Regions from separate parts of the Homo sapiens genome. Here regions 1, 2, 3 and 5 are each linked to region 4. The links come from fine-mapping of genetic effects on gene expression. A gene starts in region 4. Each other region holds a variant in brackets. All regions are shown on one strand. Distances are between the middles of the regions.

The links. PIP is the estimated chance that this variant, and not a neighbour inherited with it, causes the effect. A credible set is the group of variants that fine-mapping cannot tell apart.
Region 1: its variant is the best candidate, but not a certain one, in a credible set for the expression of TRAK1 in regulatory T cells (Schmiedel 2018, PIP 0.81).
Region 2: its variant is the best candidate, but not a certain one, in a credible set for the expression of TRAK1 in whole blood (INTERVAL, PIP 0.51).
Region 3: its variant is the best candidate, but not a certain one, in a credible set for the expression of TRAK1 in CD4 T cells (CEDAR, PIP 0.78).
Region 5: its variant is the best candidate, but not a certain one, in a credible set for the expression of TRAK1 in whole blood (INTERVAL, PIP 0.55).

Annotation. Positions count from the first base shown.
Region 1 is chr3:42,210,748-42,214,747 of GRCh38, forward strand. The region is part of intron 14 of TRAK1 (trafficking kinesin protein 1); the gene reads left to right. Among named protein-coding and RNA genes, the nearest start is that of CCK, 53 kb to the right of the region's middle. RefSeq lists enhancers at 2,368-2,869, 3,826-3,935. The variant G/T (reference allele first, on the strand shown) is at 1,851.
Region 2 is chr3:42,143,238-42,147,237 of GRCh38, forward strand. The region is part of intron 2 of TRAK1 (trafficking kinesin protein 1); the gene reads left to right. It also overlaps the pseudogene TPMTP2. Among named protein-coding and RNA genes, the nearest start is that of TRAK1, 54 kb to the left of the region's middle. The variant C/CA (reference allele first, on the strand shown) is at 2,247.
Region 3 is chr3:42,200,072-42,204,071 of GRCh38, forward strand. TRAK1 (trafficking kinesin protein 1) reads left to right here. Exons shown (of 16, transcript NM_001042646.3): 12 at 747-983; 13 at 2,365-2,681. Among named protein-coding and RNA genes, the nearest start is that of CCK, 64 kb to the right of the region's middle. The variant TGGAC/T (reference allele first, on the strand shown) is at 1,782.
Region 4 is chr3:42,088,570-42,092,907 of GRCh38, forward strand. TRAK1 (trafficking kinesin protein 1) reads left to right here and starts at 2,788. Exons shown (of 16, transcript NM_001042646.3): 1 at 2,788-2,991. The coding sequence starts at 2,901.
Region 5 is chr3:42,115,523-42,119,522 of GRCh38, forward strand. The region is part of intron 1 of TRAK1 (trafficking kinesin protein 1); the gene reads left to right. Among named protein-coding and RNA genes, the nearest start is that of TRAK1, 26 kb to the left of the region's middle. RefSeq lists an enhancer at 3,590-3,679. The variant AG/A (reference allele first, on the strand shown) is at 1,695.

The DNA.
Region 1 (4,000 bases), 120 kb after region 4:
CAATACTCCTTAACCAAATAAACCTTCGGAGAACGTCACTAAGCTTTTCCAGAGAGAAGACCCTAGATGAAGTTGGAAAAGAGCTCTGGCTGACTCCACCCACTGTCCCCAAGCATTAAAGGTGTGGCCATGAGTTTACAGAATTACCCACATTCCAGTTGCCACTGGGATGAAAAGCTTTGTGCTCAGAGCTCTGGGAATCATGGGATCACATGGTTACTGTTTACCCCAACAGCATGCTCTGTCTAGACTGGACCTCCCAGCCCCTTGTGTTGGGAAGGCAAAGCTTTTGTGGAGTCAGGGGGGAGACTGAGAAAAAATGAATTAACCCTGTGTTGTCATCCTCATGACATTCCTGAGGATTCACCAGGTTAGAAGTGAGGACGTTTATCTTTGTGATTCATAATTTTCATTTGTGAAGGCCACAACACTCCCCTTGAAATACAGGGCAGGAAAGAGCTGAGGTTCTTGGTGGTGTCTCCCATTCCCCTGGCTAATTTCAGACAGCTGTGGTCAAGGGATTTTACTTGGGATCAACTTTTCCTTTTTTCCTTGACATTAATTTTAGAGAAGTCATCAAGTCATGTGATTTGTTTAGCACATAGGTTTATTTATGGTTTGATTTTTTTTAGGCAGTTATATTACTAGATTAAGCTTGTGAGGGAATGAAAATGTTTTTTATTTGTTATCTACACACTCGAAAAAGAGAAACCAGCTGCGGTACTGTCCCATTTTTGTCATCAGCACCAGTGTCCGTCAGGAAGGCAGGTGGTGGTGCAGAAACATGATGCCTGGCTGATTTTCGTGGCTAAAGGGGTAGGCCTTATGTTGATTGGGATGCTCCCCTACAGCCTTACAGGTAGAATAGAAGGTGAGTTCTGGAAGTGCAAAGAAGCACCATTAAGTGCATCTTCTAGAAGTTGTACAGAAGGACTAAAGCTTATCAAGTCAACAAAGAACTTACCTTGGAGGATAGAGAGAGAGAAGGGACCAATTATGAGGACTGACATCCTGGCCACTCTCCTTAAAATAAACACTGACATTTTTCTTGCTTGTTCTCTCTGTACTCAAACCTGTGGCAAATTCATCCTAGCAACGTTATTTGACGAGGGGCATGAACATTTATAGTTGAAACTGTAGAAAGGGTCAGGTTGGAGGTGTGTAATAAAAAAGAATTACCTAGGTTGCCAAAGGTAATTTAGGAAGGGTCTGATCATTTAGATGAGAGTTCTTTGGGGCTTATTTTCTGGGTAAGGCTCATCTTTAAAAACTGGCTTCAGAGGGGAGAGGGGAGAACAATGAATTGGCTCTATTTTCTCTATTGGGAATTACAGGACCATTTTGATTCTTAGAATGTAAAAAGCATATCGCTAAGTAAATCATCCTGGAGGTCCCAAGTAGCTCTATGCCTGCAATCATGGAGACACAGGCAGACAGATAAGCTTCATGGGGAAGGCATGGGGCATCCTCTGTCTTGGGATTTGTATCCATGGTGGTCTGGTCCCTGCCTTTTAATCCGTCCTCTACGCTTGGGCTTTTCTGTTACCAAACAGCACTATCCCAGGAACTATTGTCTGCCTGGGAACACTCAGTAGGGAGACACTTTGGAGACAGGAGGTGATGAACCTTTTTATGTGCAGCTGGTATGATAGAAGGAAATTGGGAAAACTTGTATGCTAGGCACTTTTGTCCAGAGCCTGCTGTCCCATGGAGAAAAAGTTTTAAGCACTGAAAAAATTTGATTAATGTATTTAAATGTATTATTTGAAGCATCATTCACTTGTTGATTTTTACAATCCCATGTCTTAAAAAGGATGAATCCATGTTATTGTATTGTAAATAATTTAGAT[G/T]ATTAAAATGGATTGTTTAAAAAGTTTTAGATTATAGTTTTACTTTATTTCAGTGATATGTTTTATGTTTTAATTTATATAGAAAGTATACTTTATCAGAACTAGTTATCATCTTTTTCTGTCAGTACTCTGTATTTTAGGCATTTGTGTGGGGAAGAGCCTGCATGTGGCAAAGGATTAAGAGTTAAAGTCACACAGTTAAATTGGTAGTTGGCTAGTGGATGGGCAGTTCAGTTGAATTATCTTGAATGCTTTGATCCTTAAAGGTGAGAAAGAAGTAGGATTCAAGCCACATGGATAGAGAAAATTGACAGTCAGTTTATTTTAATGCTTTTACTCATCAAGACTGGTTCATATTGAGGGGAGATATCCTCAAAAACTTACACGAATCATGGCATCTTGACATCTTACCTGGCAGTGGCCCTGCAGTAGAACCATGTCCTAATTGGAGCTGAGATTTTTTTTTTTTTTTTTTTTTTGAGACGGAGTCTTGCTCTGTTGCCTAGGCTGGAGGGCAGTGGTGCAATCTCGGCTCACTGCAACTTCCACCTCCCGGTTCAAGTGCTTTTCCTGCCTCAGCCTCCCAAGTAGCTGGGACTATAGGCACACGTCACCATTCCAGCTAATTTTTTGTATTTTTGTAGAGACAGGCTTTCACCCTGTTAACCAGGCTGGTCTCGAATTCCTGGCTTCAAGTGATCTGACCGCCTCGACCTCCCAAAGTGCTGGGATTCCTGGTGTGAGCCACCACATCTGGCCTAGAGCTGAGATCTTAAAGTCAGAATGGAAGACAAAAAACACACTTGGCTAAAATTGCCCTTAAAAAATTCCCTAAATCTCCAGCAACTGGGCCACCAAGGCGAAAGCCAGGAATCAGCTTCTTTCGTTGCCTCCTTGTTTGATACATAGGCCCAAGGTCAGGAGCAGTGACTGAGTGAGGAAAGGGCAGAGAAGGGCTTGTGGTGAGAAGGAGCCAGGCGGAGTCAGGCCAGCTGGGTGTTCCTGCAGCTTTGCCCGGGCGGGGCAGCTAGAGCAAAGCTCAGCCAGCTTGTATCCTGTCCCCTCTTCAGTACACCACAGACCACAGAACTGGGGTTCAGACAGGCTTGTGAGAAGTTGGTTTGGGGGCTTGATGGGTCTGGAAGGAAAAGTCTGGTATGCTCGATTCACAGACCCTTGGGTGCAGGCAAGTTCCTTCCCATTGTCTACACTGAGAGAGTTGATGTGAGTTCCCATGCTGTTGGGAACACTTCGATTCAGCCTGGTTTTATGGCAGTTATGAGGGAGTTTTGTTGTTATGGACAGAGTGGATAGTTGGCTCACACCCACCTGTATTAGGAGATGCTAAGGAAAGCCCTGTGCTCTGCCGTCAGAATATATATTAAGCCAGAGTAAAACAGGCCAACTGCCACCTGCAAGTGGAAAAATGAATGAAGAATGAAAGAATTGACTCCTTCAAAACAAACAGCATAGAGTCAACCCTGCTTAAAATATCCAGAACAAAGCCCACTTGTTGAGCATTTTCTCTCTGGTATCCTCACCTCTGAACACTACAGAGGGCCCCCTGGTGCTCCTAGAGGCACGTGGGTTGCTGAGGAGGTGTCTGAACCTGACACCCTTCTAATGTGGAGGGCCCTTGAGGGAGCACCCTGTGTTGAGAGGAGGAGCTGTGCAACCACACTGCCTAGTGAAGCACAGGTGAAGTGCTCTCTTGTGCTGGCCTTGAACGCACTAGTGGGGAAAGGTCTTGATGCAGCTCAGCCAGGCCAGCTCCCTTCACCTGTTGGTGTCTGCCACAGAAGGAAGGACAAGAGGACAGAGGGTATAGGGACCAGCTTTGTTGGTGTCTGAAGACTACAAAGGGATTTCTGCATTTGCCCTTTGGACGTTTTAATAGCATTCTAAAAATCCCCCTCTCTCTAGAAGATACCCCAGGGGCACTTGAGAGAATTTCTGACCCTCTCTGCACAATGCTGTGAAATTGTTTATCTCTTAAATCACATACTTTTCAGATGAAACAGGGTAGGCAACTTGGTGTAGTGGGAAGAAGAGTCGACTTTTAATTTTGCAGAAACCAAAAATAAGTTGTGCAGAAACCAGAAAAAGATCTTGTGATGTGTGGTTCGAAATCTCTGTGATAGAAACCTCCC
Region 2 (4,000 bases), 54 kb after region 4:
AAAAACTTCTCAATTTGTTTTCTCTGTGAGGTGCTAACTTGAATCTTTATCTTCTTTAATTGTACCTCTTCTTTTTTTTTTTTTTCTTTCAAATTCCATTAGCAAATAATCCTTGGATGCTTTTTCATTCACTTATTGAGAAGTGGAAAAGGCTTAGGACGGGGATCATTCCTGGTTTATATCCAGATGCTTTTGGTATTCTCTGTGCAATCCTGGGCAAGTGACTTAAGCCACTAAGACCCCTTTCCTTGTCTCCACAATGAGGGAGCCATTAGGTCGCAGGGGTCTGAGGAGTAAGTGAGATATAAAGTATTAAATGCCAGGTATACAGTCAGCACTTTCTAAATGGGGCAGCCGAAGATGCGGTGACTAAGGAATGGCTGACCAGTGGCTGTGAGGCTTACCCGAGACGGCTCCTGGGACCTGTTTTTATTCCTGACTTTCTAGTGGCAGTGATGGAGGAGTGTCAGGTCATGGTAGGGAGGAGGCTGCTTTTTCGGCTGCAGTAAACCTGGGCCGAGGGAGGGCTGTAACCCTCAGGAGTGTTGGGACTCTTGGTGTGAAGGAAAGTGGATTTGATGTCAGATAGACTTGGATTTTAATTGTGAAACTCTTCACAGAGCTATGGACAGATTACTTTGTCTTTCCAAGCATATGAAATACTTTTGGTGTAGTTCACTTTGAAATTGCTTGAAGCTCGTAAAAATCACCCCTAAATGATGCTGTTTCCTTTGTGCTTATTTATACATTGTTTTGTTTCTTTCCTATTTTCTTAAAAAGTGAATTGGATATGTGCAGCTTTGGACTTAATTCAAGCTGTGCTCAATAATGTGTTGTCACTGTTTAGAAATGGTGCCTCGCTCCCTACCTCACCCCACCTGTCACTCCTGCTCATTACTGTGAACTCAGTGCCTTTGAATCAGTTATGTTGGAAAAAGCTTATAAATGGCATTTCTACCTCATTTCCCTAATTGTAGCTTAGGAATTTGTACCCCCTTTTTAATTGTTCATTTCCTGGCTTATTTCCCTTAAAAAAAAAAAGAAAGATTAGAGTGATGAAGATGATCACAACTAACATTTATTGCAAACTCTCTTTGTCCCAGGCACTGTGCTAAGTGCTCTGCCATACACTAATTGATTATAGCTTCCCCTGTCTCTGTGGAATGTATTATAATCACCCCCATTTAGCAGATGAGACTGATGTTATCTAATAAGGTCACAGACATGGAAAACAAAGAGCCTGTACCAAACCTCAGACCATCTGACTCCAAAAGCCCATGCTCTTAACTATGAAATCTGTTATTTTTTACTTGTTTTATGGTAATGGGGTAGGAATAAAATGTTAAAAAAATTCATAGTGCTGTAAGGTAAATGTGCCAAGTATTATTTAAGGGGTTTCTATCAAAACAAAAAAGCAAGCAAATAAGGGATTTGTATCCTTGTATATTTTTTTTTAACTTTAACAAAATTTATTCTTATAATTTGAGAATATATTGTTCCATATAAATTGTATTATTTCATTAAAATGTATTTGTTTCTTGTTTCTGTTACATATAAAATTGTACTGGAGAAAACATTTGCAAAGAGATGGCTAGGATTTCAGTAAAAGACAAAGGTTTATAGTGAAAGCTAATCTTTTATATAGCTCTTGGGATTAGTTGAACCCTGCTGAAGTATTACATTTCTTCAATTATTCTAAATTTCATAGAATGTCAGTTTTTCTATGTCTATTATATTTAAGTAATATTCATTGCATTGTTCTTTTATTTTTTAATTATACAAGTAATACATGCGGATTGATTGGTAAAAAGTCTTGCAGTCTGTAAGCAAGACACACAGTCATAATCTTCCACCTCCTCGCCTCCCCAAAGGAGCTACTTTAACATTTTAGTATCTATTTTCTTCTAAAAAGATATATGCAGTTTTGAAAATTGAACAACTGCCTAATTAAGAATGGGCAAAGGGAGCCAACCGTGGTGGCCCACGCCTGTAATTCCAGCACTTCGGGAGGCCAAGGTGGGCAGATCACTTGAGGTCAGGAGTTTGAGACCAGCCTGGCCAACATGGTGAGACCCCATCTCTACTAAAAATACAAAAAATTAGCTGGGTGTGGTGGCACACACCTTTAATCCCAGCTACTTGGGAGGCCGAGGCATGAGAATCCCTTGAACCTAAGGTCAGAGGTTGCAGTGAGCCAAGATTGTGCCACTGCACTCCAGCTTGGACAACAGAGTGAGACTCTGTCT[C/CA]AAAAAAAAAAAAAAAACCTATGTGCGTTTTTGAACAAAGATCTTTGATATGATTTGTAAACAATAAAAAATTTATGCATTACATTTTCATGCCTTAGCATAATTTTCAATTGCTGAAACTCAAAAACATGTTGATGTTACTTGATTTTGTTTACATCTGATTTACTTTTCTGTAAGTAGATATAACTTTTCAAAAATGTAGTCAATTTGCCAACTTTCATGTTGTTCTTCAAAACCATCAATCATCTCAAGACAATGAATATTGCATATTGTACTGAACAACCTTTCAATTTCAGCATGTGGAACATAAGCTAGTGGGCCTGCATGTTTAGTTGGGTCATAAGAAAGAACACACTCGAGGTACTGAAACCCTTTTCCCAGTAGGGACAACATTGTATCTGCATAGTGTTTGAAATCTCCTAGATTAATGGCAGCCAGTGCTCCTCTATCCCAAATTCTGTCAAATTTGTCGATATGTGTTTGGGGAAGATAATAAATGCTGCAACAGTACAATGAAATGTTCTCTGAAGAACTCTTAAATACTTTGGCTTCAGGAACTTTGCTAATTGGTTCTTCTGAGTAAGAAAGATTCTGCTCTGTAAAAAATTCTTGTATCCCAAGTGCACTGATTTATACACCAACTACATTGTGTCCTTGGTCTGCAAACCATTTCATCTCAACAAGGAGGAAAAAATACCTTCAGTCTACTCTCACCTTTAAGAAAAGTATCCAAATGCGTCTTCAATAGCTGATGTCCTTGTTCTTGATGAAAAGCAATATTGCCGTTCACCCACTTGTCTTGCCATTCTTCCAGAGTTCGTACTTGGTTTTCCTGACCTCAGTATTGGGATACTTTTCCATATCAAATGAAGCTCTTGTATCATCCATAGTTTCATAGACACCATTGTCTCATAAATGTATGTTTTTTAATGCCTTTACTGGTTTATTACAAAGGATACTGTGAAGGATACAGATGAAGAGGCTCCAGGAACCTCCATGTGTTCAGCTATTAGGAAGTTTGTCTGACTTTCATGTGATGCTTTGAGGAGTTTGCATTTCCTGTTCCTTTATTTTATTTTTTTAGTTTTTGGGGTAAGGTCTCACTCTGTCACCCAGGCTGCAGTGCAGTGGCATGATCACATCTCACTGCAACTTTGAAGTCCTGGGCTCAGGTGATCCTCCAGCTTCAGCCTCCCAAGTAGCTGGGTCTACAGGCATGTGCTACCACGTCTAGCTGGTTTTAAAATTTTTTTGTAGAGATGAGATTTGGCCATGTTGTCCAGGTTGTTCTTGAACTCCTGGCCTCAAACTATCCTTCCTTCTTGGCCTCCCAAAGTGGTAGAAGTACAGGCATGAGCCAATGCAACCAGCCCTCTGGTTCCTTTATTAAATCATTTTGCAAATTCTTGTTGGACCTTCCCCACCCTAATTGGATTGAACTGGCGAACATTGCTGATTTTTTAGGAGTTTGTTGTTAACTATTTGCCTGTTTATAAGGCCCATCATCATCTTTTTAGAAATACCTTAAGGTATCTCAGAAAACCTCGGGACACCGGACTCCATTCACCTGTCTTGAGGTGAACATCTGAGGGGCTGTTTGGGAGCTTGCAGTGGGGCTCTTGAGAGGCACCATCATGGCCAGAGATAGGACAATATTAAAGACTAGAGGGAGAGATGAGATGTGTCAGATAGCAGGGGCAGTTATAAGAAAGGAATTAAAATCATTTCTGCTGACTTTAAATAGTCACAAGTCC
Region 3 (4,000 bases), 110 kb after region 4:
AAGGAACATGTGGACCAGGTTTCATTGTGTTTTCTGTGTACTCAGACTCCATAGACAGAACTTAAATGAGATCCTGGGAGTGGCAAGTGTCCAAGTGAGGTTTGGTATATGTGTGACACCCTCTGCAGCCCAGAAGGAAGTGGCCATTGTAAAAACATGCCTACCCTTTTCTCTTTAAAAGGGAACAAATGAGCATCAAAGTGGTTCTGCTCCTAAAATAACACTTTCCAAAATTAGACAAATCTAGTATTTATCATCTTATTATAGAAGTGAAAGACTAACTTGAAGTCTTCCTTTTTTTATATGAATGTTCAACAAATATCCATTCTACAAGTATTGATTGATTTCTGCTGCGCTGAGCAGTAAACACTGCCCTGCTGCAGCGTTTATTCTAGTGAATATTATGAAAAAAGAAATCTAGGAGACAAAAGTCATACTTAAGTATTTTTATTTGTGGGTTAAGCTTTAGGGATGTGAAACACAATTTCACTCTTGCTGGCATCACCTTTAGGATACAACCATGCGTTCGAGTCCTGGGTTTAGTGGGTGTTGAATCTCTCAAATTTCGCATTGTGAAGGAGGCAGCCAATACCCTAAGAAACAGGTGGCAGGCACAGGATAGCAGGCTGCTGGGGGACTCGTCATAGGCCAGGTGCCCTTTTGGCTCAGTTGATCATTTTTGGAGGGTTAAACTCCAGGGTTGTGCCCGCATTTGCTCACTCACGGATGCCGTGCATTCTCCCTAGTCACCAGAAGCGTGTCTTTGAGACAGTAAGAAACATCAACCAGGTTGTCAAGCAGAGATCTCTGACCCCTTCTCCCATGAACATCCCCGGCTCCAACCAGTCCTCGGCCATGAACTCCCTCCTGTCCAGCTGCGTCAGCACCCCCCGGTCCAGCTTCTACGGCAGCGACATAGGCAACGTCGTCCTCGACAACAAGACCAACAGCATCATTCTGGAAACAGAGGCAGCCGACCTGGGGTGAGCAAGCTGGGAGTTTTCACTTCTCTGTTTTGGGGTGAGGAGTGGTAGTATGGATTGTCTGCAGGCTCAGTAATTATTAAGAGGGAGGTAGATGAGAGTCACCTGAAAAATACAGACCTGGCCGGGCGTGGTGGCTCGCGCCTATAATCCTAGCACTTTCGGAGACCGAGGCGGGAGGATTGCCTGAGCTCAGGAGTTTGAGACCAGCCTGGGCAACATTGCAAAATCCCATGTCTACTAAACATACAAAAAATTAGCTGGGCATGGTGGCATGCACCTGTAATCTCAGCTACTCAGGAGGCTGAGGCAGGAGAATCGCTTGAACCCGGGAGGTGGAGGTTGCAGCAAGCTGATAATTGCACCACTGCACTCCTGTCTGGGTGACAGAGTGAGACTCTGTCTCAAAAAAAAAAAGCGGACCTTACAGTTCTCCAAATCTGTTCTGCTTACCCACTTGAGCCTATGCCTATCCTTGATATGATATTTTAATCAGCTTAAAGATGTATAACAAGATGATACCAGAAAGTCTGCTTTCCTGTGAAATGCTTGGGGGAAGGATTAATGAATATTTTTTTTTTTGTTAATCTTCACGGTAAGGCTACAGAATAGACATTTGTTTTGTGACCGTTTTGTAGCTTGATGTTGGAAAGGCTGAGGAGGACTCAGGCTGTCTGTCTTGTGACCAGAATGTGGTCACAAGGTTCAGAGGGTGGGGTGCAGGGGGGCCAAGGTGCCCAGGACTGGGCTTTCCTCAGGAATGGTCAGTTCCTCTTTGTCCTGAAGCCCTGCAGAACC[TGGAC/T]GGACGGACGGACGGACGGACAGACGGACACACACACACACACACACACACACACACACACACACACACACACACCATTGTCTACTTTGTGCATCCTTTTCCTCTGACTTAATAAAATTGATTCTTCCGGACCAGTTGGAACAGACAGACAGGAAGCTCCTTGATCAGAGCAGGTTTTGTTCAGAGTTGGGGTCTGGGCTCTTTTCCTTCAAGAGAAGAGAGAAACATGCCTTAACCCCATTATCCTTCTGGTAGCCAGGAACAGCAACCTACAGGTTTCTTCCTAAAGGTTCTTCAGGGAGATGTTTACAGGGACTGAATTTACTTAGTCTGTGTGCAGATATTCATCCCACCTTAGTCCTCACCCCACCTCAACCCCACTAAAAAAGACCCCTGGCGGGAGTGGTTCTGGACACGAATTTATTTCCCCCTGTTGCCTAAATGTCAACTGCTTGCCTTGGTTCCCATGGAGAATCCTGTAGCCCCAGGGAACGTCCACCGCTGTGCATTGAGCAGTCGGGCCTCTGTGGCCTTGGAGCCCTGCTGGCATTCCACCCTCACACCCCTTTCTTCTTCCAGAAACGATGAGCGGAGTAAGAAGCCGGGGACGCCGGGCACCCCAGGCTCCCACGACCTGGAGACGGCGCTGAGGCGGCTGTCCCTGCGCCGGGAGAACTACCTCTCGGAGAGGAGGTTCTTTGAGGAGGAGCAAGAGAGGAAGCTCCAGGAGCTGGCGGAGAAGGGCGAGCTGCGCAGCGGCTCCCTCACACCCACTGAGAGCATCATGTCCCTGGGCACGCACTCCCGCTTCTCCGAGTTCACCGGCTTCTCTGGCATGTCCTTCAGCAGCCGCTCCTACCTGCCTGAGAAGCTCCAGATCGTGAAGCCGCTGGAAGGTGATCACGCGGGGCCTCGGCCCCTCTCTGTCCTCCTGGGGGACTCCCTTTGGTCCCTGATCCACCTGCGGAAGGCGGGGCACCTCTGTCACGCCTACTCCTTTTTCTTCCGCGACAGCCACCCGCGCTGCTGGTTTGAGTTCCTCTGAGGGTGGTGCTCAGCCTAGGCCTCCGTCCCTCCCCTCTGGCTGGCAGGTGTGACAATGCACACATAGGCCATGAAACTCGCCGAGGAAAGACAAGCATGTGCACTGTGGTCTTCTAGTTCTTTCCTTTGCCTTTAGAACCTTAGAAATAAAAACTTTTGTGGCGGTAGAGGCACTGCTAACTGATTCAAAAATTAATTAGGTTTTGCCTGTGGGTGTGAGGAATGCAGAAAATTAATGCTTTAGCTTTTCTGCAGTTTTGGTGTCGGGGAGAGGTTCCAAGCAAACTCTATTAAATGGGGATTTTTTTTTCCCCATAACCACCTGAATGTGATTTGTGGGCTTATGTGTTCTGATTTGAACTTCATATAGCAAGGTTGTGGCTTTTGGCAGATGCAGTATGTTCTGAGCGCGGCTCCTAGAGTCTACAATTTGGAGTCCAGGAAGGGGTGGCTGTGGAGACAAGTGAGTTTTGTACCTCCGTAAGCCACCCTTTTTCAGGGTCAGTTCATGTGTTAGTATCAGGGGCATCTCAGATGATTAAACTCATGGGAAAAACTTCCTCCTTCCCTCTCTCCCTCTTGCCCTCCTGCCTCTTTTTTTTTTTTTTTTTTTTTAATTTAGGCACTTATAAAATGTTTTCCCTCTACCTGCTGCTACTCTGCCAAGAGCCACCAAGTGCTTATATTTTTCATTTTTTACTCCTTTAGTTTGGAAAGCCATATACGTTTGAGAAGGTGTTTTAAAACTCTGTGTTACACTTACGATGCAAAGCCAAATCAGAACTTCTGTAAGGCAGAACTTTCCCAACTTTAAAAAAATTATTGTCCCCTCTAAGGAGCCTTCTTAGACGTTTTTTCCTAATCACCCCCCAAAGACATTTTAATACCACATATATATTGTTTATGTACTATATGTATATACATAAACAATACATAAGCAATACATCTGTGGTATTAAAATTAAAAAGAATCCAATTATGTTTACCTCAAAAGAACCTGTTTTTGCTTCTTGGGAGCAATATTGCCCCTGTGAGACTGCATGCTATAAGGTAAGGTTGTGCTTGTTAAAGACCCAAGACATGACTGGGTTCCACAGTCTCCAAAGGAAGAGGGTGGGCTAGTTTGTTTTTATTATTATTTTAAAATTGTATAATTGGGGTCTTTCTTAGAG
Region 4 (4,338 bases):
GGCCAGTGTCTCTGCTCTTCTGTTTGCTTACTCTAGTTTTTCTTTTGTTCTCTCTGGAGTCCACTGCAGGCAGGCTCATGCCCCACCACACTGACAGCCTGGTTCAGTCCAGGGGTCTGTCCTCTGCCTTCACCTTACTTCACTTTTCAGTGGTAGTTCACACTGTTGCCAAGTCCTGTGTCCTGGAAGTACAGTCTTTACTTGGCTTCTGGGTCCCCACACTCTCCCTGTTCTTCTGCCTCAGTGGCTGCGTTTCTTCTTCTCCCAAGCCTGGGAACGTTGAAGGGCCCGGGGCCCAGCCTTTCCGCCTCTTTGCTCTTATGTGTGCACCTGTGCAGCACTTGATCTCACCCAGCACACAGGTTTTAAAATCGCCTTCTGTACTGGCCACTCGGTGGTTTCTGTACTCAGCCTGGCCCTTCCTCCTTAAGGCCAGATGTCTCAGACTGACTCCACATGAGTTTCCACTTAGATGTCTAACAGGCATGTCAAACTCAAATGACCAAAAATGAGCTCCTGGTTTCCACCTGCACCTGCTTTTCTTAGGGTTTTCCCCATCCTTGTAAATGGTGCTTTCATTATTCTAGTTGCTCAGGCCAAGAACCTTGGAGGCATTTGTGATTCTGCCTTTCTGCGATTCATACCCCAGTTTGTCAAGAATTCTGTTGGCTGTATCTTCAGAGTATGTTCAGAATCTACCCAGCATTTACTGTGTCCCAGCCACCCCCATCTCACACCTGGATGACCGCACTGGCCTTCCAGTGGGGCCTCTTACTGCTACCCTTGCCTCCCTAAAATTCTTTCTCCGCTCAACCATGAGAGTTGGCTTTTAATACAATCAGATGGTTTAACTCTCCTCCAAACTTCCAGTGAGCTCCCCTTCTATAGAGACCTGTAAGGAAGGGGCTGAATGACAGGAATCCCTCTTTGCCCCGCTGACCTGCCTCCTCTGTGCCCTCCGTGCTCCAGGTACACTGGCCGCCTCACTTAACCTTGAACTCACCAGGCACATCCAGCCTCAGGGTCTTTGGATTGCCTTAACTCCAGATATCCTTATGACCCCCTCTTCCTTCTCCAAGTGACATTTTATTTGATGCTTTTTGTGACCCCCCCCCAATACAGAGTGATCTGCCTCACCTTTCCCCATCTCCCTTTCCTGTTTAATTTTTTCCCCCAAACTTAACCATCTGCTGAACTACTGTATTTGTGTTTTGTCTCCCAAACTTGCAGTAGACTAAAGTCGCGGAGGGCAAACTCTGTGTCTACTTTGCACACTCCTGAATCCAGTGACTAACGTAGTGCCTGCCTGTGGCCAGCGCTCAGTGAACATTTGTTGGGTGTATCAATTGTGTCAATTTGTGCAGTGAGTACTATTATCCTCTTTGTGTAAGTGAAGAGTCTAAATCTCGAAAGGTTCAGCACCTTGGTGAAACTCCTGAGTGGCAGGAGTTGCATCCAGGTCTGTAGGACCCCAGGGCAAGGGTTCTTTGCTGCCTAAGAATTTAGTCTAGTTGGGGAGACAGATGAGTGAGTAGAAATTGGCTGTACACCGAGGTTAGCACAATGATAAGCACAGCACAGTAGGGCACCAAGGAGGGTGCCAGGCTGAACCTTGGAGGGGAAAGGACAGGAGAAGACCACGAGGGCTTTGTGGAGGAGGCGATGACCCAACCGCATCTACATTTGTCCAAACACATGAATTGATCCTTGGGATTCTAGTGGCATCTGTACCAGTGAAATCCAGGAAGCATCCAGCCTGTTAAAGTGCTTTCACTTTCTTTGAATGTGACAGTGGAGGGTAAAGAAATGGCAGAATGTACCGCTGAAACTTCACAGCTGGGCGTGGTGGCTCACGCCTATGATCCCAGCACTTTGGGAGGCCGAGGCGGGCAGATCACCTGAGGTCAGGAGTTCAAGACCAGCCTGGCCAACATGGTGAAACCCCGTCTCTACTAAAAATATAAAAACTAGCCAGGCATGGTGACGGACGCCTGTAATCTCAGCTACTTGGGAGGCTGAGGCAGAATTGCTTGAACCTAGGAGATGGAGGTTGCAGTGAGCTGACACAGTGCTACTGTACTCTAGCCTTGGCGACAGAGTGAGACTCTCTCAAAAAAACAAAACGAAACAGCAACAACAAAAAACACAACAAAGAAGTGGCAGAATGTAGTGCTGAAACTTCAAACCCTATAGGATGTGGTGACTTGGGGGTTCTTTGTTGGGACCAGAGGAAAGCTGAGAAACAGCTCGGTGCTGTTGTGTTTAGCACTGGCTTGGTAAACAGGAGAGTAAACACAGACACTCTTATGCGTTTAAGGGATGGGCTGTCAGGTGATGGAGAACATGCTCGGATTAAAGTTTTATTAGGCAGTCATTGAAAGGAAGACATTAAATGGAAAAAAGTTCTCCGAGAGACCTAGACTATCCCCAAGAATGCATCTGTGGCCTCCCAGGGCTTTGCCAAGTGCAGTCTCAGGACACTGCTTGGCATTCAGCCCTTGATAAATTCACTCCTCCCCCAGTTCCCAGCAAGCCCTGAGATGAACAGCAGACTTTTTGTTCCACTTTAATTTTTAGGCAAAACCGAATGCCCATCACAAAGCCCCGTTCTCCTTGCTACTCCCCTTCCCCCAACCTAGAGGTATCACATTTTTGGGTGCGTCATTTTCTGTTTGGGGTGGCTTAACAAGATGAGCTGATAGGGTTCCCAGGCTGCCTGGAGTTACATAACCCATTGTGCTTCCAGGACAGCTCACAATCTTAGGATTTGCCCTAACAAGCAAACTCAGAAAACTGCTGAGGAAGGCACGGGAGGGTGGCTGTGCGAGGTACTGCCGGGGCTGAGCTCTCATGGAGGCTCTCTCTGTTCTCTGAAGTGCCTTTGGAGTTTATGTCTGCACATGGCATTGGTTTTTCAATTCGGGCAGCCCGTCAGGGCTCAGCCTCTGCCAGGACTCTGCCACGGCAAGCTCATTCGGACAAACGCCTGTGGTAAGTTTGTTTGCCAGGTCTGTCTGCTGTCTGTTTTCTTTGTGGTGTGGTCGGAAAGGAGAAAAGACCACAGGAGAAGCTGTCTCTCTCTTGCTCCGTGCTGCTTGGGAGGTTGTTCATGGTCATGTGGTAGAGAAATTGCCATGTTGAATGATAGGCAGAGCAAAGGGACTTCAGAGACACAACTACTGCCCTCACCACCCCCCCATCTCCCGTTCCCAGGTCCCCTTGTCCCCTTGCCCAGGCTCAGTAGGTGCAAGTGACACTTGCAGGGCATGAGCACAGGGCTGAGTTGAGCCCAGACCCCCTGCACTGCCACTCCCTTTCCCTTCACAGTTCTCTGCAGTGGGTGGACAGGGTTTCTAAGGCCTCCTCCGCCTCTCCAGCTCTGATTTCTCTAATCCTATGTCTTGTCTTTATCCTGATTTCTTAGATGCTAACCTGGTATCTTGGGTCAGCAAGGAGTTTTTCAGAAGGTGAAGGACAGAGTTAGACTGTCTCCCTCCCTCTCTCCCGTTTCCCTCTCTTCCACCCTCCCTTTCTTTTTTGTCCTTTACTAAATGCTTGGGCCTGGGACTCGGATCCACACCCCAGTGATGGAGGGCTTGCTAATCAGATCTGCTGTGGCTTGTGTCTCTTGCTGTGGGGCTGACACCTCTCACTTCCTCTAAGCTGGTCAGAGTCCAGTGGTTGATGACCCATCTGGTTTCTGTCCTGTCTACACGCTGCTTCCTGAGAGCTGTCTGGGCCAGAAAACAGTTAATTCCTGAGAGAAGTGAGCTCCTGTTCCATTCCAGTCAGTTTTAGGCTTTAAAACATGTAAATCTTATTGAATAAGCCTAAAGACACTTCAAACATGCATCTTACTGAGGCAATCGTACTTATTTTTGTGTGTTGAAGCAGCGTGCACCCAGGGCCAGGTTTTTACTGGGGTTTATGTTAATTCCTGGGGTCAGAGAGAGGACTGGTCCTGCCCTCAGAGCACAGAGGTGGGCCAGGGTGTAAAGGAGAAGCTGTAAACCGAGTGAGAATTGCCTAGGAAAAATCTGCTAACAGGAGTAGCCCTGCCTGGGAGGACTCTTCATCAAAGGGCCATGGCTTAGAATTTGTTCCTTTTATTTTGTTGTGTTGTGTTGTGTTGTGTTGTGTTGTGTTATGTTATGTTATGTTATGTTATGTTATGTTATGTTATGTTATGTTATGTTATGTTATTTCGTGACTCACTGTATTGCCCAGGCTGGTTTTGAATTCCTGGGCTCAAGTGATCCCCCTGCCTCGGCCTCCCAAAGTGCTGGGATTACAGGCGTGAGCCACCATGCCTGACCCAGGATCTTTTCCTTTTCTATC
Region 5 (4,000 bases), 27 kb after region 4:
GATGGTAACTCGGTACGTGACACCAGGCTATGTGGAACTCAACTGTGTAATTTTGTGTCCGTTTTCTTAGAAAGCGTTTCTTCTGTTGGTAATTAAGGCCATGGAATTCTAGAGAACTCCCCAGTGTTGGTTTTCGTTCCTGTCTCTGAAGCATAGTTAGTCTTTCCTTTCCCATCCTATGAGGGTTTCTCTGCTTGTCCTTCTCTCTTCTGGAGATCCCCTTTGCTGTTCACAGCAAGTGAGCTGTCCCTCAGTGGGGAGAGAGGCAGAAAAGGAAGACTTGGACCTATCCCTTGTCCCTTTGTGGCTGGGGTGTGAGCCAGGGTGGAGTCGGAGGTCTTGCTTCCATTTCTGCCACTGCTTAGCCTTGAGACTTCCCCCATGTCTCTGAACCTTGCAGGGCCACAGTTTCCCCTTCTGTCTTTTAGATCTGGGTCTCCTCATTTATGAAATGTGTTCCCAATCCTCATCCTGCACTGCCTGCTGGCTTGTGAGAGTAAATGAAAGGCAGTAATAGATACAAGTGCTTTGCGTTGTTCAGCAAACATTTATTGAACACTTACTAGTTACCAGGCAGGGTTCCGGGTGCTGGGCAAACAGCGGAAAGCGAATCAGCATCTGGAGGTGCTGTCGCTACATCCCGAGGCCTCTTGCATGGTGGGACCTGCCGCAGGCCAAGCACCCATCTCGAGTCTGCTGCTGGTTTGCTCTGTGACATTTGGCCACCTCCTCAGCTTGAACACAGTGTCCTTTTCCATTCAATGAGGAGGTTGCGCCAGTAGTTTTTAGCTCTAATGTCCTCTTTGTAATTTGTGGAATCACAACTTTTGTGGTATGGAAAGTAATTACTAAGACTGAATCTCTGAAGATGTTCAGCTAAAGCTGTAAACTGCATAGTCCCTTGATAGAGAGGAATTTTCTAGAAGGTTGTCTGTCAGATACCACTTACAAAGTATCACATACATCTCCAGCACCAGTGTGGCCTATGTATGAGTCTTTATTCCTGCCCTTTAATCCTTATAATTTTAAGAAAATGGAATTGTTTCCAAGTCTGTACAGAATGGTTTCCAAGTGGCTGAGTAGGTGAGGAGTGTTGTCTTGTGAAGTCATTAAAACATTGCTGTGGGTTTGCAGTCACTGCCATGGGTAATGTGTCATGAGAGAGGGTTATTGCCTCTAGCCAGAGCGCCTGCCTCCCCAAGCATAGCCAGGGGTCATGCTCTGCACCCACCTCTCTGATGGCCAAGTGGAAAGTTGGTGGGTAAAGAAATGGAGTGGGAGAGGGACAGGGAGGAAAAAAATAAAAAAGATGGACCTCTGTATGGTGGCCACTATTTGATGAGCGAAGGTCCCTTTTCTTGTTCTTTGTCACCTTTAATGTGGTCTGTAGCATTCTCTGAAGTCCCAGAGTGTGGCGCCAGGATGGAAGTCCCAGTGTGCAGACTGGAGGCATGCATGTTTAATCTGGCCCTCAGTATTCAACATTTAGAAATCAGGGACTCTCATAAAAATACAGATCCCTGGTCTCTTGGGTGGAGTCAGCATGTCAAGGACTGGGGGCGTCACCGGGAAGTGCTGTGAGTGGCGGCTGCCCCCCAGACACAGCCCTCAGAATGTGCAACTCTTGCTCTCACCGCTCAGAGAAATTTAGGGTATGAAGAAAGCTTTTCTGCAGCCACTTACCTTTGTTCTAC[AG/A]AGGAAGAAACTGAGTCCCAGGCATATGAACATGTGATTTGCCAGAGTGATAGGACGAAGTTGAGGGGGCAGAACCGAGGCTGGGCGTCCTTTCTCCAAACTCTTGAAACTGTGCTCCTGGCCGGCACCCAGGGCCTCTCGGCTTCCAGCAGGTGGCAGTTGTGGTGCTGGTTTCCTGCCATTGCCTCTTTCTGGCATTCCTTTCCTCCCTCTCCTGTTCTTCTCTCCTCCTTTGCTTTTGCTTGAGCTTTCTCTCACTAGGTTTTTCCTCTTTCTCTCTCCTGTCTTTTATTCTTCCCTCTCCCCTTGCTGTTTTCTCAGATCTCCTGCCAACTGGGTGAGTGTCTAGGGCTACTTTCCTTCTAGACAGCTCTTCTGCACACTCTGCTCACCTTGCAGCTACTCAGGTCCCTGTTCTCCTGGGCTTAGAGCCCTCAAGCTCCAGCGTGCAGGCACGAGGCCCAGAAACCCTGTTGGAATGATCGCACTCCCTCTCTGGAGGTGGCCACCACTCAGAGCATTTAACTCCTCTGTGGAGGAGGAGGTCCCTTGATCCTAGATAGGCTGACTTCTTCTGAGAGTCCACATATCTGTATTTCTTCTTTTCTTTTTTTTTTTTGAGACTGAGTCTAGCTCTGTCATCAGGCTGGAATGCAGTGGCCTGATCTCGGCTCACTGCCCAACCTCTGCCTCCTGGGTTTAAGCGATTCTCCCGCCTCAGCCTCCCGAGTAGCTGGGATTACAGGCACGTGCTGCCACGCCCAGATAATTTTTGTATTTTTAGTAGAGACGGGGTTTCACCATGTTGGCCAAGATGGTCTCGATGTCCTGACCTTGTGATCCGCCCACCTTGGCCTCCCAAAGTGCTGTATTTTTATTGTTTTTAGAGGGAGTTTCACTCTGTCGCCCAGGCTGGAGTGCAGTGCTGCGATCTTGGCTCACTGCAACCTCCACCTCCCGGGTTCAAGCAGTTCTTCCTGCTTCAGCCTCCCAAGTAGCTGGGATTATAGGCGTCCACCATCACGCCCATCTAATTTTTTTTTTTTGTATTTTTAGTAGAAACGGAGTTTCACCATGTTGGCCAGGCTGGTTTTGAACTCCTGACCTCAAGTGATCTGCCCGCCTCGGCCTCCCAAAGTGCTGGGATTATAGGTGTGAGCCACTGCGCCCCGCTGAGATCTGTATTTACATGAGGTTCTCTGAGTGTTAAATGTTGGACACTAATTTAGAGCTATTGCCTTTGCTGTAAAATGTAAGCATTGCCTCAGGCACCTGGCAGGTTTTGTGAAGCTGGCATGTCACCTGAGAATCAGTGCAAATCCCTAGACGGAGGAGTCTCCTCCTAGCCGCTCTCTGCAGGTGAGGATCTAGCCCCAGTCAGGTGGAGAATGGACACAGCTGCTTCTGCAGCTCTGCACCTTCCAGGTGCCAAGCAGGCTCCAGCACACTTTCTTCACTCCCTGGTGGCCCTAACTGAAGCCCACATCCTGGGTAGGAGGGTCCATTCCAAATCTTACGCCTTGGGAAAAACCTAGGAAGGGTTATACCTCTGAAGAGGTAAAGAGTCCTTTTAGGTTATTTTACTTTCAAAGTGATGTCATAAGAATGGTAGGTATTGGATTGACATCTGCTGAGCAATTGAGGGGACATTTACCATCCCATGGGACTTTCCTCTATGCTGGATAAAGACCTAGGGTGATACTGAGGTGGGTTTGAAAAGACCTTGACACTAGATGGCTCCACCTGCCTCATGTTGCAGGCTGGGCATGTGTCTGTCCTGGACAGGCAGGGGATTCACAGACTAGTCCTGCCACCGGCTGCTGCTCTCTCCTTCCCTTGTTCCATCACTCTTCTCACACTTACTGTTGCCTGGCAAAGTAGTAAGGGCTGGGCTGAAGGTAAGGTGGATAATTCAAAGCCTTTTCTCTTGAGGGGCTCACAATTAGTAGGGAAGAGCCACAGAGAATACACTTCTAACATCGTAGTGAAGTCATTTATGTACTGAGAACTGTGGAAGCCAGAGAAGAGAGGTTAAGGGAGGCTTTGCAATAGAGAGTGACATTTGAATGATATTTTAAGATGGAGTTTGCTAGGCAGTGAAGGGCATTCTAGGGAGCTAAAACAGCTGGTCTAAAAACTCAGATTTGTGAAAAAAATGTGTTTGGAAAATGGTGAGAAGTTGGTATGCCTTAAGTGAAGGGAAATTGGAGAAAATAGCAGAGGCTGGGCTTGATAAGAAAGGCTGTTAGGGTGTTGAGTTAGCTGCTTTAACAGAGACCAAAGTAATTGGAACTGTAGCCTCAAT